Homo sapiens: one gene and its partner. The protein of the gene in region 2 purifies or fractionates together with the protein of the main gene of each other region. This does not show direct contact. Each region holds a gene or a part of one and is shown on either strand. Other genes may lie near its edges.

Region 1 (7,537 bases), on a different chromosome or scaffold from region 2:
GGGCAGGGAAGGAACAGGTCATAATGGAATGTCTTAAGGTTGGTCAATCAGTTAAGACAGGAGCAGGCTGTTTCTCTTCCTTTGTAGTTTTCAGTTGACTCAGGCCATCTGGATGTATACACGCAGGCTTGGGCTCAGAGGCCTGACACATGGAGCTTGCAGGTTAAAAGTGAATTGCATTTGAAGATATCATTTTTTAAAAAAATTTCCTTGTTTAGTTTGCTTGTTTTATACTTGATTAGCATCTGTGTTTTACAAACATGACTTATAGTCCAATGTGGTGATTTTTGAAGATGAACTGGGAGATGGAAGAGAATTCTAAGTCTTAATAATTCTGATAAAGTTAGTAATGAAGAATCACAACTTATAAATGAAGCAATGGCTCCAGCAAAATTGAAAAGACACTTAACTGCAAACCATAGTAAAGGAGCAGATAATTTTATATGGCCTTTGGAAACCCAGAGTAAAGAATGTATTTATTTTTTTAAGTCACCTTCAGTAAAAAGGCCCAGAAAGCAAGTTATTTAGCAGAAGAACCTTTTGACTAGAAAAGGAAAGAGCCCCACAATTGATGGGACCTCACAATTTCAGCATGTATAATTACAGAGAGTCAGACGCCAGCATATGATGTAATGAGAAACTAAAACGGTTTCACTTTCAAAGTTTGATAAATTGATGTGATTGATGACATGTCACATAATGCTGCATAGCATCAAAAGAACCTAACAACTTCTCATCCAGGTTGATGAATCATCAGATTTCAACAACAAATGTCATAAAGTAGCATTTGCAAGATTTATAAATTACGGCAAAATTCAAGAAAATTTTTCTTCTATTAAACACTGCTGCAAAGAAGCAAAGGTAAAGATATATTTACTGTCTTCATATTGGAAAAAGAAGGTACCTCTTGGAAGAACTGTGTCAGTATCTATTTATGGTACCCTATCAACGATTGGTTCCCTCAGAGATTTCAATTCTCATTAAAATCCTGACATATTCACAACTCATTGCTTTCTTCCCAGAGAGTGCTGATGTCAGAAAGTTTTGGAGCAGAAATGAAAAAAGTTCTAGATGATGCTATGAAGATGACTTATCAAACATAATGCAATTCACTTCTAAAAATTTTTTTTTTTAAACTATGTGAAAACCTGGACAAGGCCCATATAAATCTCCTTCCACATGCGTAAATCTTATGGCTTAGCAGATCATTTTGGGGGAATCCAGCTGGCATGTCATGTCAGTACTCAAGCACCCTGTAAAGAGGTCTGTATGGCAAGGAACTGGGGCTGGCAGTAGGCAGCATCAGCTTGCTAGGCATGTCAGTGAGCTCCCTCAGAAAAGGATCCTCCAGCCCTAGTCAAGTCTTCAGTGGACTGCAGCCCCAGGTGATACCTTGACTGCAACCTTATGAGAGACCCTGGGTCAAAATCATCCAGCTAAGCTGCTCCTTAATTTCTGACCTACAGAAATTACACAAAATAATGTTTATTGACACTACGGATTGGAGTGAGAGAAGGTAATACAGATTCTGCTCCTTAACAGGACGCTTGACCTAGAAAGTGAATCACAGAAATACATTCAAGAAAACAGTAGCCCAGATTTTACCAAATTCTTTGAAGATAAAGAATGGCTGTGGAAACCAGCATTTTTGTTTTTTTTTGCATTGCTGTAAAGAAATGCCCAAGGCTAGGTAATTTATAAAGAAAGAGGTTTAATTGGCTTATGGTTCTGGAGGCTTTACAGGAAGCATGGTGCTGGCATCAGTTTCTGGTGAGGTCTCTAGAAGCTTACAATCATGGCGGAAGGTGATGGGGAGCCAGCATGTCACATGGCAAGAGTGGGAGCAAGAGAGAAATAGAAGAGGTCACAGACTCTTAAAACAACCACATCTCAAGTGAACTGAGTGAAAACTCACTTATCACCAAGGGGATGGTGCTAAGCCATTCATGAGAATTCTGCCCCCATGATCCAATCACCTCCCACGAGGTCCCATCTACGACACTGGGAATCAAATTTCAGCATGAGATTTGGAGGGAACAAACATCCAAACCATATCACCTACTTAACAGACATTTTCATCACATGAACTAGTTGAACAAGGATCTTCAGGCCCTGGAGAAAATCGTTTTACTTCGAGTGACAAGATTTTTGGGTTTAAATAAATATTGAATCTTTGGAAAAGTTATATTGCAAAAAGGGATCTTGAAATGTTTCCACTGCTGCTTGGACTTTAGAATAAGGAAGTCTCAAGTCTTACCGAAAACCACCGTGGGGAATTGCAGAACAAAACCGAACAATATTTTCCTTCCCCTGGAACACAACTGTATAACTACGTGAGGAACCCTTTCCTTGAATCTTCTCAGCCTGAGCACCTGGCTTTGAGAAAAGAGGAAGAACTTTGTGAATGTATGACTGTAGATATAAGATGAAATGTACTTATTTGTGTTTCTCCTTCTTTTTTTTTTTTTTTTTTTTTTTGAGACGGAGTCTTGCTCTGTTGCCCAGGCTGGAATGCAGTGGCGCAATCTTGGCTCACTGCAATCTCCGCCTCCCGGGTTCAAGCGATTCTCCTGCCTCAGCCTCCCAAATAGCTAGGATTACAGGCGCCCGCCACCACGCCCGGCTAAGTTTTGTATTTTTAGTAGAGACAGGGTTTCACCATGTTGGCCAGGCTGGTCTTGAACTCCTGACCACAGGTGATCTGCCTGCCTCAGCCTCCCAAAATGCTGGGATTACAGGCGTCAGCCACAGCACCTGGCCTGATCTGTGCTTCTACAAGTTTTGGATTTCTGAGAAAGAAGAGCAGCTTGACATTTTTAAGAAAGTAATAAACATTTTGACATACTTTAAAACTTCTTGTTCAAGCAAGCTTTTTCTCACTAAGTTTTAAGAGTAAAGACAAAAATCATCTCATTTCAGTTGAAAATGCAATCTGTGTGTGACAATCTCAAGTTCAATTCAGAATTGAGCAAATACACAGCAAAAGATAAGCAAAGGTTTCATACTAAATAGGTAATTTTCATTTTTTGTTTCAAAAATAATACACTTATATAGGCCCATAAAAAGACCAACATTCGTTAAAATCAAATTGCAGCATTTACTAAACTAAAAGAAAAAGAACAAGTAAAGTTTCCTCTCTCACTTATTTTGTTTTTTGTTTGTTTTGAGACCAAGCCTTGCTCTGTCGTCCAGGCTGGAGTGCAGTGGCGTGATCTCGGCTCACGGCAACCTCCGCCTCCCGGGTTCAAGCGATTCTCCTGCCTCAGCCTCCCGAGTAGCTGCGATTACAGGCGTGTGCCACCATGCCCGGCTGATTTTTGTATTTTTAGTAGAGAAGGGGTTTCACCGTATTGGCCAGGCTGGTCTCGAACTCCTGATCTCAAGTGATCCATCTGCCTTGGCCTCCCAAAGTGCTGGGATTACAGGCGTGAGCCACCACGCCCCGCCTACAAAGGTATTTTAAAATCCCATTTACAATAACCCTCTGAATTAGATAGGTACCAAGTTCCACCCTCTTCTAAACACGAGATCAAATATCAAGGTAAGGTCTCAGAGGGTTTGGGTGTAAAAGACTCCAACCAAATTTAATAAATGGGAAGTCATTACCTTTATTTGTGAGAGAAGCTTTGGAGAATGTGGGGGAAGCTGATGTCAAATATAAAGGGCTTAAAGAGAGAAGAGGGAGAGGAGCTTTCAGCACAGTCCAGTTCACAGCCCGTCGGTGCTCAAAACATACTTGAATACCTGGTACAAAAGATAAAAATGATGGTTTGGTTTTCTATAAGACAGCATAGTTTCTTTAAAATTACACACACACATGCATTGCTTTTCTTCCTTTAATTAGTTGAGACCATAGGACAAAAGAAGAGGCATAGTTGAGCGCGTAATGGTGCGAAAATCAAAAGGTTGGGAAGAAACAAGAAACTCAGATAAACGCTTCCGTCGGCTGTGACAGGTTCTGAGGCGCCCAGATCTACTGGACATAGCGCGGCTCAGAAGCCTCAGAGACCTGTCCGCACAGTTCCTGAAGTTAGCAACAAATTAGTGAGTGCTGTTGCGGGCCATTTTGCAGCCAGAGAAGCAAATGCGCAAATGCGCCCAGCCAGTCAGCACGGACTTCAAGAACCAACTTCATTCCTTGCAAGGTGCTTTAGTTCTGGCCGTTAGGGCGGCAACCAAACAGAAACCTGCCCCGCCTCTGGGAGAGAAGGCGGATCCCTAACGCCAGCTATCTCCAAGAGCAACATTGCCGCAGCACTTCCGGGACGTCGTGCTGCAAAGGACGCCGCTGTTATACGTCACTTCCACGGCTCAGCGTCAGGCAAGTTGGCCTCTCTGTTGTAAATTAGTGGTTAAGGTTATCTATTATTGCCACTTTTCCAGCGCTAAAGGCTGTTTTGGAACCAGTGTTGCTTGTTCCGCGGGTGATTGGCTTTTTTTTTTGGCAAACCAGTTATTCAAGTTTCTGGTCTTTAAAAAACTCTGTGGCGGTACGGTAACCGAGGAGGTTCCAGCGCGGCGGAAGTACCCCGCGGGTGGGTGTGTGCGCAAGGCCAGGGCCAGAGGGGCACGTGGCGCCGGTGAGTGGCCGTAGAAGCCGGAGGATTTGAAAATGCTGGACGTGGAACCCAACTGCCGGAGGGAGGGAGGAAGGAAGGGGATGCGGTGCGAAGACCTTGCTGTCTGTAGGGGGAGGAGATACTAATCATGGGGCGGCAAGGGTGGTGTGTGGTCGGTCGGCGCTCACGAGACCATGGAGAAGTAAACTCTTCACCCATCAGGTTGGTGGTCACTGGCTGTCTGACCGTGGGTGAGGTGACAGGGCTGCTTTTGTCTCCTTTATGGTGTTCTCACCGCAGCTCCGAGGGGTTGGAGTATACTCAGAGGCTACAGTGATCAGAAGACATAGGTCGTTTTTTTTTCATCAGGGAGGAGAGAGAATGTCTTTTCGAGGCGGAGGTCGTGGAGGCTTTAATCGAGGTGGTGGAGGTGGCGGCTTCAACCGAGGTGGCAGCAGCAACCACTTCCGAGGTGGAGGCGGCGGTGGAGGCGGCGGCAATTTCAGAGGCGGCGGCAGGGGAGGATTTGGACGAGGGGGTGGCCGCGGAGGCTTTAACAAAGGCCAAGACCAAGGACCTCCAGAACGTGTAGTCTGTATGCAGTCTTCAGTATTTAGCTTATTTGAAGGAGTAGGTGTGGGTTGGGGGTTTGTGTTGTTAGGCAGCAAGTTTGGGATACACAAGCCTGTGTGGAGAATGTAGCATGTAAGGGTGGAGTGGGGAGATCAAGAAAGCTGAGGGATACTTAGAATGCATCTTGGAGGTGGAACTTGAGGGTTGACAGGAAGATATTAAATAGGTAATCGTGAGTACTTATGCCTAATTCCCCGATTTTACAGATGAGAAAACTATGATTTAGAGTTAAGTTTTTTTGCTGGGGTCATAAGGTTAGTGATAAGTGATCAATTAGTGATATAGCTGAAATACAGGCTGGGTGCGGTGGCTCACGCCTGTAATCCCAACACTTTGGGAAGCTAAGACGGGAGGATCTTTTGAAGCCGGGAGTTAGAGACCAGCCTGGATAATAAAGCAGGAGACCCTGTCTGTACAGAAAAGAAAGAAATACAAAGCCAAGTATTCTGACTCCAAAGCCCATGCTTTCTGTTACTACTCAAAAGTAGATAAGTGAGAAAACAATTTGCTTGAGAGGGAAACTGCCAGAGAGGAAATCTAGAAAAACACCTATTTAGGGTAGTTTTAGAGTAATTAACAATGAGATGGGAATGGAAGTCACAGAAAGTGAAACTTACTACATTAAAGAGGAGAGAGGGTGAGTAGTGTCTAACTAAGAATGGCTTGGATGAGTATGCAGGATGGTTTGAAAGGAGCAGTTTCTAGAATAAAAGGTCCCAGCCCACAAGCTGTTGTACCAGTCCATACATGAGACCTTGAGAGCCTGAATCAGGATGGTGACAGTGAGGAAAAAAAAGGAAGGGTTAGATAGGAGAGAGATTTCAAAGGAAACAAAATCGGTAGAACTTAGCTAATGCTGATAATAAAGGGTTCCAGGTTTTGAGCTTGGGTGATAGGAATGAAGACTTGGTTTTGCAGGAATGTGGTATTTTAGTTTGGGGTGACAGTCTAGTTAGAAATAAAGGTAGTTATTTTGAGATTCCAGATGTCCTTGAAAACAATGAATCATTGTTAAAGAGGTGGTAGTGGGAATGGAAAAGTTCTAAGGCAAGAGAAAAAAAAAAAGAATGAAGGCTGATTCTGTTAGGCATTGAAGAAAAGGGAGAACCAAGAGAATGAAGCAGAGTTTTGAATCAGATAATAAGTTGTAATAACATAACTGTTACAGGTTGAATGGTGTCAGTGTGCCAGGCACTGTTCTAAGCACTTGACATTTGTTATTCCATTGAGTGCTTACATTACTGTATATTAGGTATAGCTATACATTATATGTTATTAGTGCATACTAAAAATGAGACACTGAATTAGAGAGAGGGTGGGTAACTTCTCCTAGGTCAAATAGCTAGTGTGTTGTGGAGTTGGTATACCAGCCCAGGAAGTCCTAAGACTGTGGTCTTCTGCCTCAGAGGAGAGCAGTTATGGTGAAGTCCCAGGTAGCCAAAAAGAAAGCTTCCAGAAGCAGTTGGTCAGTATCGTTTGAAATAGTTCTATGTTTTAACATTTTCTTGTCCTGTTTCAGTATTAGGAGAGTTCCTGCATCCCTGTGAAGATGACATAGTTTGTAAATGTACCACAGATGAAAATAAGGTGCCTTATTTCAATGCTCCTGTTTACTTAGAAAACAAAGAACAAATTGGAAAAGTGGATGAAATATTTGGACAACTCAGAGATTTTGTATCCTTTTTCATTGGAAGGCCTGATAATATTCAAAGGTTGCTATTTGCATTTTTCTGAGGAGGCAGTTAAGTATAAATTAAAGTTGTTGCTTCATTAAATTAGACAGGATTGCTACAGATTGGACCATGAAGGAGAATCAAGGGGAGAATGTATTCATCCATAGATATTAAAATGACAGACCCTAGAACGGTGACTTTTTTTTTGGAAAATTCTATTAATGATGGCCATTTGGATAAGTACTACAGGATTAAGTTGGCTGATTTGGATGTAGTGGTGCCACTGGAAATGTAGAATTAGAAGTTGTTTGGTGCCCCCACTACTCTGGAAACTCCTTCCTTCCTTTCTCTCTCTCTCTTTTTCTCTTTCTCTCTTTCTTTCTTTCTCTCTCTTTCTCTCTCTCTTTCTTTCTCTCTCTTGCTCTTTCCCTGCCTTCTTCCCTCCCTCCCTTCCTCCCTTCCTTCCTTTCTTTTTTCCTTTTTTTTTTTTTTTTTGACAGAGACTCACTCTGTTGCCCAGGGTGGAGTGCAGTGGCACGATCTCATCTCACTACAACCTCCGCCTCCTGGGTTCGAGCAATTCTCGTGCCTCAGCCTTTCAAGTAGCTGAGATTACAGGTGAGCGCCACCATGCCCGGCTGATTTTTGTATTTTTGGTGGAGGTGGGGTTTC
Region 2 (7,020 bases):
TGCTAGGCAAGTCATTTGCATTTCTCTGAGCCTGAATTTCATCCAAAAAGTTAAGGGAGTATATTAGTCTCTTGTTCCCAAACTCAAGACTAATGGATACACATTAGAAATACATGGGAAGCTTGTTTAAAATGCAAATGCTCTGAGTCCTAAACTAGGAAAAAGCAGTTCAGTAGGTTTTAGGGTGTGTGTTTTAAATATGTGCTCTATAATCATACAGAATCTATATGATTGGTTGTAATTGATGTGATTATGATTAATCCTTTCTTAGTAAGATATGCAGGATTTCCTATCTTACTAGAAATTAGTATCTTTCTGGGTCACATTTATTTCACTAATTCTCCAGTTCCTTTTTTTTTTTTCTTTTTTTTTGAGATGGAGTCTTGCTCTGTCGCCAGGCTGGAGTGCAGTGATGCGATCTTGACTCACTGCAACCTCTGCCTCCTGGGTTCAAGCGATTCTTCTGCCTCAGCCTCCCGAGTAGCTGGGACTACAGGCTCCCGCCACCACGCCCCGCTAATTTTTTTTTTTTTGTATTTTAGTAGAGTTGGGGTTTCACTGTGTTGGCCAGGATGCTCTCCATCTCCTGACCTCATGATCCACCCACCTCAGCCTCCCAAAGGGCTGGGATTACAGGCGTTAGCCACCTCGCTTGGCCCTTTAGTTCTTTTTATCTTAAACTCCTCTCATAAATTACATGTGCTTGAATCATATTTTCCCAGCCTTTGTTCCTTGCATTCTGATTCTCTAAGCTCTAAGTTTTTTTTTTTTCTCTTTGGCATACCTCTGTAAGTCTCTTTAAAAATGACCATCAGGGCTGGGCGCGGTGGCTCACACCTGTAATCCCAGCACTTTGGGAGGCTGAGGCGGGCGGATCACGAGGTCAGGAGATCAAGACCATTCTGGCTAACACGGTGAAACCCCGTCTTTACTAAAAAAAATACAAAAAAATTAGCCAGGTGTGGTGGCGGGCGCCTGTAGTCCCAGCTACTCAGGAGGCTGAGGCAGGAGAATGGGGTGAACCCAAGAGGCAGAGCTTGCAGTGAGCCGAGATGGCACCACTGCAGTCCAGCCTGGGCGACAGAGCAAGACTCCGTCTCAAAAAAAAAAAAATGACCATCAGGACCGGGCATAGTGGCTCACATCTGTAACCCCAGCATTTTTTTTTTTTGTGATGGAGTCTCACCCTGTCACCTAGGCTGGAGTGCGATGCTGTGATCTTGGCTCACTGCAACCTCCACCTCCCAGGTTCAAATGATTCTCCTGCCTCAACCTCCTGAGTAGCTGGGATTATAGGCGCCTGCCACCACGCCTTGCTAATTTTTGTATTTTTAGTAGAGACGGGGTTTCACCATATTGGCCAGGCTGGACTCAAACTCCTGACCTCGTGATCCGCCCACCTCGGCCTCCCAAAGTGCTGGGATTACAGGCGTGAGCCACCGTGCCCAGCCACAATCCCAGCATTTTGAATGGCCAAGACAGGAGGATCACTTGAGCCCAGGAGTTTCAGACCAGCCTGGGCAACATCGTAAGACCCCATCTCAAAAAAACAAAAATTAGCAGGGTGTGGTGGCAAGTGCCTGTAGTCCCAGCTGCTTAGTAGGCTGAGGTGGGAGGATCGCTTGGGCCTGAGAGGGCAAGGGTGTCCAGTCTGGGCAACAAAACAAGTCCCAGTCTCAGAAAAAAAAGTTGACCCTTAGCTCATTGTTGATGAGATTAGATTACCTTAAAAATAACCTTAAAAATTCATTCCCGGTGAGGCGCGGAGGGAGCACTTTGGGAGGCCAAGGTGCGTGGATCTCGAGGTCAGGAGATCGAGGCAAGGCTTTTCTAGGATGCTCACTGTATAATCAGAATTTTTCAACCATAATTGGAAATAAATTTGTCAACCATAATTGGAAATTAAAATTGAATTGCAATATTCAGATTTTCAATATGCTTCATTTTTTTAAAGTCAAATAATGACATTAAAAGGGTATTTTATTTTCTAGAAGAATCAAAAGAACCTGTTGCTGATGAAGAAGAGGAAGACAGTGATGATGATGTTGAACCTATTACTGAATTTAGATTTGTGCCTAGTGATAAATCAGCGTGTGAGTGTTCTACAGTATTGATTCTTCCCCTTTTACATACCAAGCATTCCCAATTGACACACACACACATACACACACACACACACCTCTCACCTTTACCACCATTACCTCCATTCTATTGCTTTTTCTTTATTTTAGCATTGGTAATATCATTAAGGACCAAATACCTATTAATATCAAAGGTTGTGAATGTAGTGAGAATATTGTAGACACTCTGTCATCTGGGTATATTTTGTGAGTGGACTCTGGTTAGTTTTACTGATTGGTGCTGTTGACTTAATCTCACCTGCTGGATGGCAGAGGAGTTATGGCAGTTTTAAAGTGGAAGATCTCAGGATGGCTGGAAAGAGCCCTATCAGCTGAGAGCAGTCTTCACCCTTCACCCTGATGCCAGCAGTCTTACCAGGACTCTGACCCTTTTTTCTTGGAAAATCCCACGAGCCATGAAGAGATTGCAATGATCTCTCATAATGAACTCTTATTATTTTATGACTTGTCTTTTGCTTCAACCGCTTTCAAGATTGATCTTACAATTTGGCAGATTTTGTAAATACTGTGGCGTTTTGTGTACCCATTAAATTTATTTGCACTGATGGTTACTTTTATTACAAAAAAAGATTGGTTACAGTTTAATTTCCTTGTTCAGTGGAGGCAATGTTCACTGCAATGTGCGAATGCCAGGCCTTGCATCCAGATCCTGAGGATGAGGATTCAGATGACTACGATGGAGAAGAATATGATGTGGAAGCACATGGTTAGTGAAATGGATTTTAAAGTGGGTTTTTTGTTTGTTTAGTGTTTCATTTTAAGCATTTATTTGTATTAAGGGTAGAGGATTATAGTTCTTTATATGACTGTAAAGTATGCAGTATGGTAAAATTATTATTATTATTTTTGAGATGGAGTTTTCGCTTTTGTTGCCCAGGCTGGAGTGCAATGGCGTGGTCTCGGCTCACTGCAACCTCTGCCTCCTAGGTTCAAGCGATTCTCCTGCCTCAGCCTTCCAAGTAGCTGGGATTACAGGCATGCGCCACCACGCCAGGCTAATTTTGTATTTTTAGTAGAGATGGGGTTTCTCCATGTTGGTCAGGCTGGTCTTGAACTCCCGACCTCAGGTGATCCGCCTGCCTCGGCCTCCCAAAGTGCTGGGATTACAGGTGTGAGCCACTGTGCCTGGCTGGTAAGATTATTATTAAAATAGAATGACACGGTAGAACACTTTATGCCAAAGCCCTTTGCAACAGACAAATTTTTGAGTGTAAGAAATAGAGATTGTTATGGGGAAGAATGGGTAAGTAGAGCATATGGGAGGAAAGAAAATGGTAGATAGGGAAGTGGATGGTCAGGAAAGTCTTTTAAGCTGAGGCAGCTGCCCCCAGAGAACAAGCTTCTCTCTCTACACCTTGAGAACCTGGATCATTTATATTGTTTTATTATTACTATTATTATTTTGCAACAGGGTCTCACTCTGATGCCCAGGCTGGTGTGCAGTGGTGTGATTTCTGCTCACTGCAACCTCTGCCTGCTGGACTCAAATGATTCTCCCAGCTCAGCCTCTTGAGTACCTGGGACTACAGGCTTGCGCCACCATGCCTGGCTAATTTTTGTGTATTTTTTATAAAGACTGGGCTTTGCCATATTGCCCAAGCTGGTCTCCAACTCCTGGGCCCAAGCAATCCTCTGGCCTTGGCCTCCCAGAATGCTGGGTTACAGGCATGAGCCACCGGGCCTGGCCTGCATCTTTATTTAACATGTTCCTTCAAACAGCTCACTGCCAAGGTCATTTCTTTTTCTCAGAACCATACTTCATTTATTTAAGAGCCCTTTCCGATTGCCTCCCCCAGACCAGAATGCAGTCACTAGCGTGATAAGAGTCTTTATAGCTTGAAGTACCTGCTGTTCTCTTTTCTTTTCCCTACTGGTCTTATGTACACCAATCTGGGTATCCAAAGCCCTTTCCTTCATATGTACCCACTTCCTGGCCTGAGATAAACACATTTCTGGGATCCGCCATCACATACCTAAATATATCCAAATATATCCTTATCTTTCTGAGATTTTTGAGTGATTTAAAATTTTTCATCCTTTTTGTATGTTCCAGAATTTCTAATTTTTTTTTTTTTTTTAAACAGGGTCTAACTCTGTTGCCCAGGCTGGAATACAGTGGTACCATTCTCCACCCACTGCAGCCTTGAACTACTGGACCAAAGCTGTCCCACCCCAGTCTCCCGATTAGCTGAGACTACAGGTGCACACCACGTGCCCGGCTAATTAAAAAAAACATTTTTTTGGAGAGATGAAGTCTTACTATGTTGTCCAGGCTGATCTTGAACTCCTGGGCTCAAGCAGTCCTCCCAGCTCGGCCTCTCAAAGTGCTGGGATTACAAACGTCAGCCACTGCACCTGGCCCTGATTTTTTTTAAGAAAGGAGCATGTTTTTTAATCAGAAAACATCTTCATTTTACAAATTAATACCAAATTAATTTGTGCTCACTTGTAAAATTCCCACCTCAGGATAATGTAGGACTCTCTGACCTTAGGAACACACTTTTTTTTTCTAGTCCCTGGACTTGGGATTCTTTGGGAATTGCTGTTTACTGGCTTGTTATCTCTTTTAATAACCCTAGAGAGTAGGTACATCTTCTTTGTATTTCTGTCTTCAGCAGTAGCCTATATGTGTGTATAAATAAATGTTCAAAAGTATCTTCCTGGAAGCCTATTTGGACAGTATATTATCTTCAGCAGATTCTTTTTTTTTTTTTTTTTTCCAAGACAAGGTCTTGCTCGGTTGCCCAGGCTGGAGTACAATGGCGTGATCTCGGTTCACTGCAACCTCCACCTCTGTGGTTCAAGCGATTCTCCTGCCTCAGCCTCCTGAGTAGCTGGGACAACAGGCGCGTGCCACCACGCCTGGCTAATTTTTGTATTTTTAGTAGAGATAGGGTTTCACCATGTTGGCCAGGCTGGCGGCAGATATATTATTGATTCCATTTTGTTTTTTCTAATTGTTGTATTTAAACTTTAAAGTTTTCTGTTTGTTTAGAACAAGGACAGGGGGACATCCCTACATTTTACACCTATGAAGAAGGATTATCCCATCTAACAGCAGAAGGCCAAGCCACACTGGAGAGATTAGAAGGAATGCTTTCTCAGTCTGTGAGCAGCCAGTATAATATGGCTGGGGTCAGGACAGAAGATTCAATAAGAGATTATGAAGGTGAGTGTCCTTTTGCAGTGTGAACAGTCAGATGAGCACTTGGGCAATAAGTTATGGATAGTCAATAGAAGTTCTTTTAATAACTAAGAGAAAGAATTGACTCTCTATAGTATAGGAAGCAGATACAGAATTACATAGTATAGGAATGCTTATGTCATTTGTTTTTAGTGATTTTTTTTCCTCATTACCAAAAAAGTCTTTGTTCATAGTCAAAAAAATTTTTTTAATGTGCGCAAGAAAGTAGAAGTGAAAAAGAAACAAGTGTAATTCTAACTGAGAGATATCCACTATTAATTTACTGTTGCATCTGTGTATTAGTTTGCTAGGGCTATTATAACAAAGTGTCATACAGGCTGGGTGGCTCAAACAATAGAATTTTATTGTCTCATAGTTTTGGAGGCTAGAAGTCCACGATAGGTTATCTCTGAGGGCTGTCAATTCAGGCATCTCTTCAGGTATACACACACCCACCAAAGCAAGAGAGAGATTTTAAGAAATTGGCCCACGTGACTGAAGGCTGGCAAGTCCAAAATCTGCATGGTAAGCCGGCAGACTGGAGACCCAGAGAAGAGTTTATGTTGCATTCTGCTGCCTCAGAAGTTCTGCTGGCAGAATTTCTTCTTGCTCAGGGGAGGTGAGTCTTTTTCCTATTGAGGCCTCCAGCTGATTAAATGAGACCCACCACACTATGCAGGGTAATCTCCTTCACCCAATTTTCACCAGTTTACAAGGCTAATCTCATCTAAAAAATAACCTCCACAGAAACATCTAGAATAATGTTTGACCAACTATCTGGACACCATTGCCTAGCCAAGTTGATGCATAAATTTAACTATCACACCCTTCTTTTTTTCTTAAGATGGAGTTTCGCTCTTGTTGCCGAGGCTGGAGTGCAATGGCACGATCTTGGCTCACTACAACCTCCGCCTCCTGGGTTCAAGCGATTCTCCTGCCTCAGCCTCCTGAATAGCTGGGGTACTGGCGCCTGCCACCGCTCCCAGCTAATTTTTGTATTTTTAGTAGAGACAAGGTTCCACCATGTTGGCTTAAAGTATGCACAGGCAAAGAAGAGGTAGAAAAAAATAAATATAATTCTGAGATGCATTTACTATTAATTTTCTGTTGCATATCCTTTCAGTCTTGTGTCCTTTTGTGTGTGTATATACACTGATTGTGTGTGTGTGTGTGTGTGTGTGTGTGTGTGTTTGAGACAGAGTCTTGCTCTGTCGTCCAGGCCGGAGTACAATAACGTGACCTCGGCTTACTGCAACCTCTGCCTCCCAGGTTCAAGTGATTCTCCCACCTCAGCCTCCTGAGTAGCAGGGATTACCCACTACTATCGTGCCCAGCTAATTTTTGTATTTTTGTAGAGACGGGGTTTCACCATGTTGGCCAGGCTGGTCTCGAACTCCTGACCTCAGGTGATCCGCCCGCCTCAGCCTCCCAAAGTATTGGGATTACAGGCGTGAGCCACTGCACCCGGCCATGATTCTGTCTTATTTATTTATTTATTTATTTAAGACGGAGTCTCACTCTGTTGCCCAGGCTGGAGTGCAGTGGCATGATCTTGGCTTACTTCAACCTCCACCTCCTGGGTTTAAGAGATTCTTCTGCCTCAGCCTCCTGAGTAGTTGGGATTACAGGCATGTGCCACCATGCCTGGCTAATTTTTGTATTTTTAGTAGAGGCGGGGTTTCACCATGTTGGCCA

Evidence for each region. The genes of interacting proteins can lie anywhere in the genome.
Region 1: the proteins of CLNS1A (region 2) and GAR1 purify together in Homo sapiens (affinity purification with mass spectrometry; 5 studies listed by BioGRID and IntAct, with this or other methods). This does not show direct contact.

The regions. Positions count from the first base shown.
Region 1 is NC_000004.12:109,811,225-109,818,761, forward strand, and holds the start of GAR1 (H/ACA ribonucleoprotein complex subunit 1), read left to right. Parts: upstream 1-4,537; 5' UTR 4,538-4,580; exon of another isoform or gene 4,581-4,781; intron 4,782-4,928; 5' UTR 4,929-4,940; coding exon 4,941-5,154; intron 5,155-6,711; coding exon 6,712-6,866; intron 6,867-7,537. UniProt on the Homo sapiens protein: Required for ribosome biogenesis and telomere maintenance. Part of the H/ACA small nucleolar ribonucleoprotein (H/ACA snoRNP) complex, which catalyzes pseudouridylation of rRNA.
Region 2 is NC_000011.10:77,620,790-77,627,809, reverse strand, and holds part of CLNS1A (methylosome subunit pICln), read left to right. Parts: intron 1-1,991; coding exon 1,992-2,093; intron 2,094-2,739; coding exon 2,740-2,847; intron 2,848-5,136; coding exon 5,137-5,310; intron 5,311-7,020. UniProt on the Homo sapiens protein: Involved in both the assembly of spliceosomal snRNPs and the methylation of Sm proteins.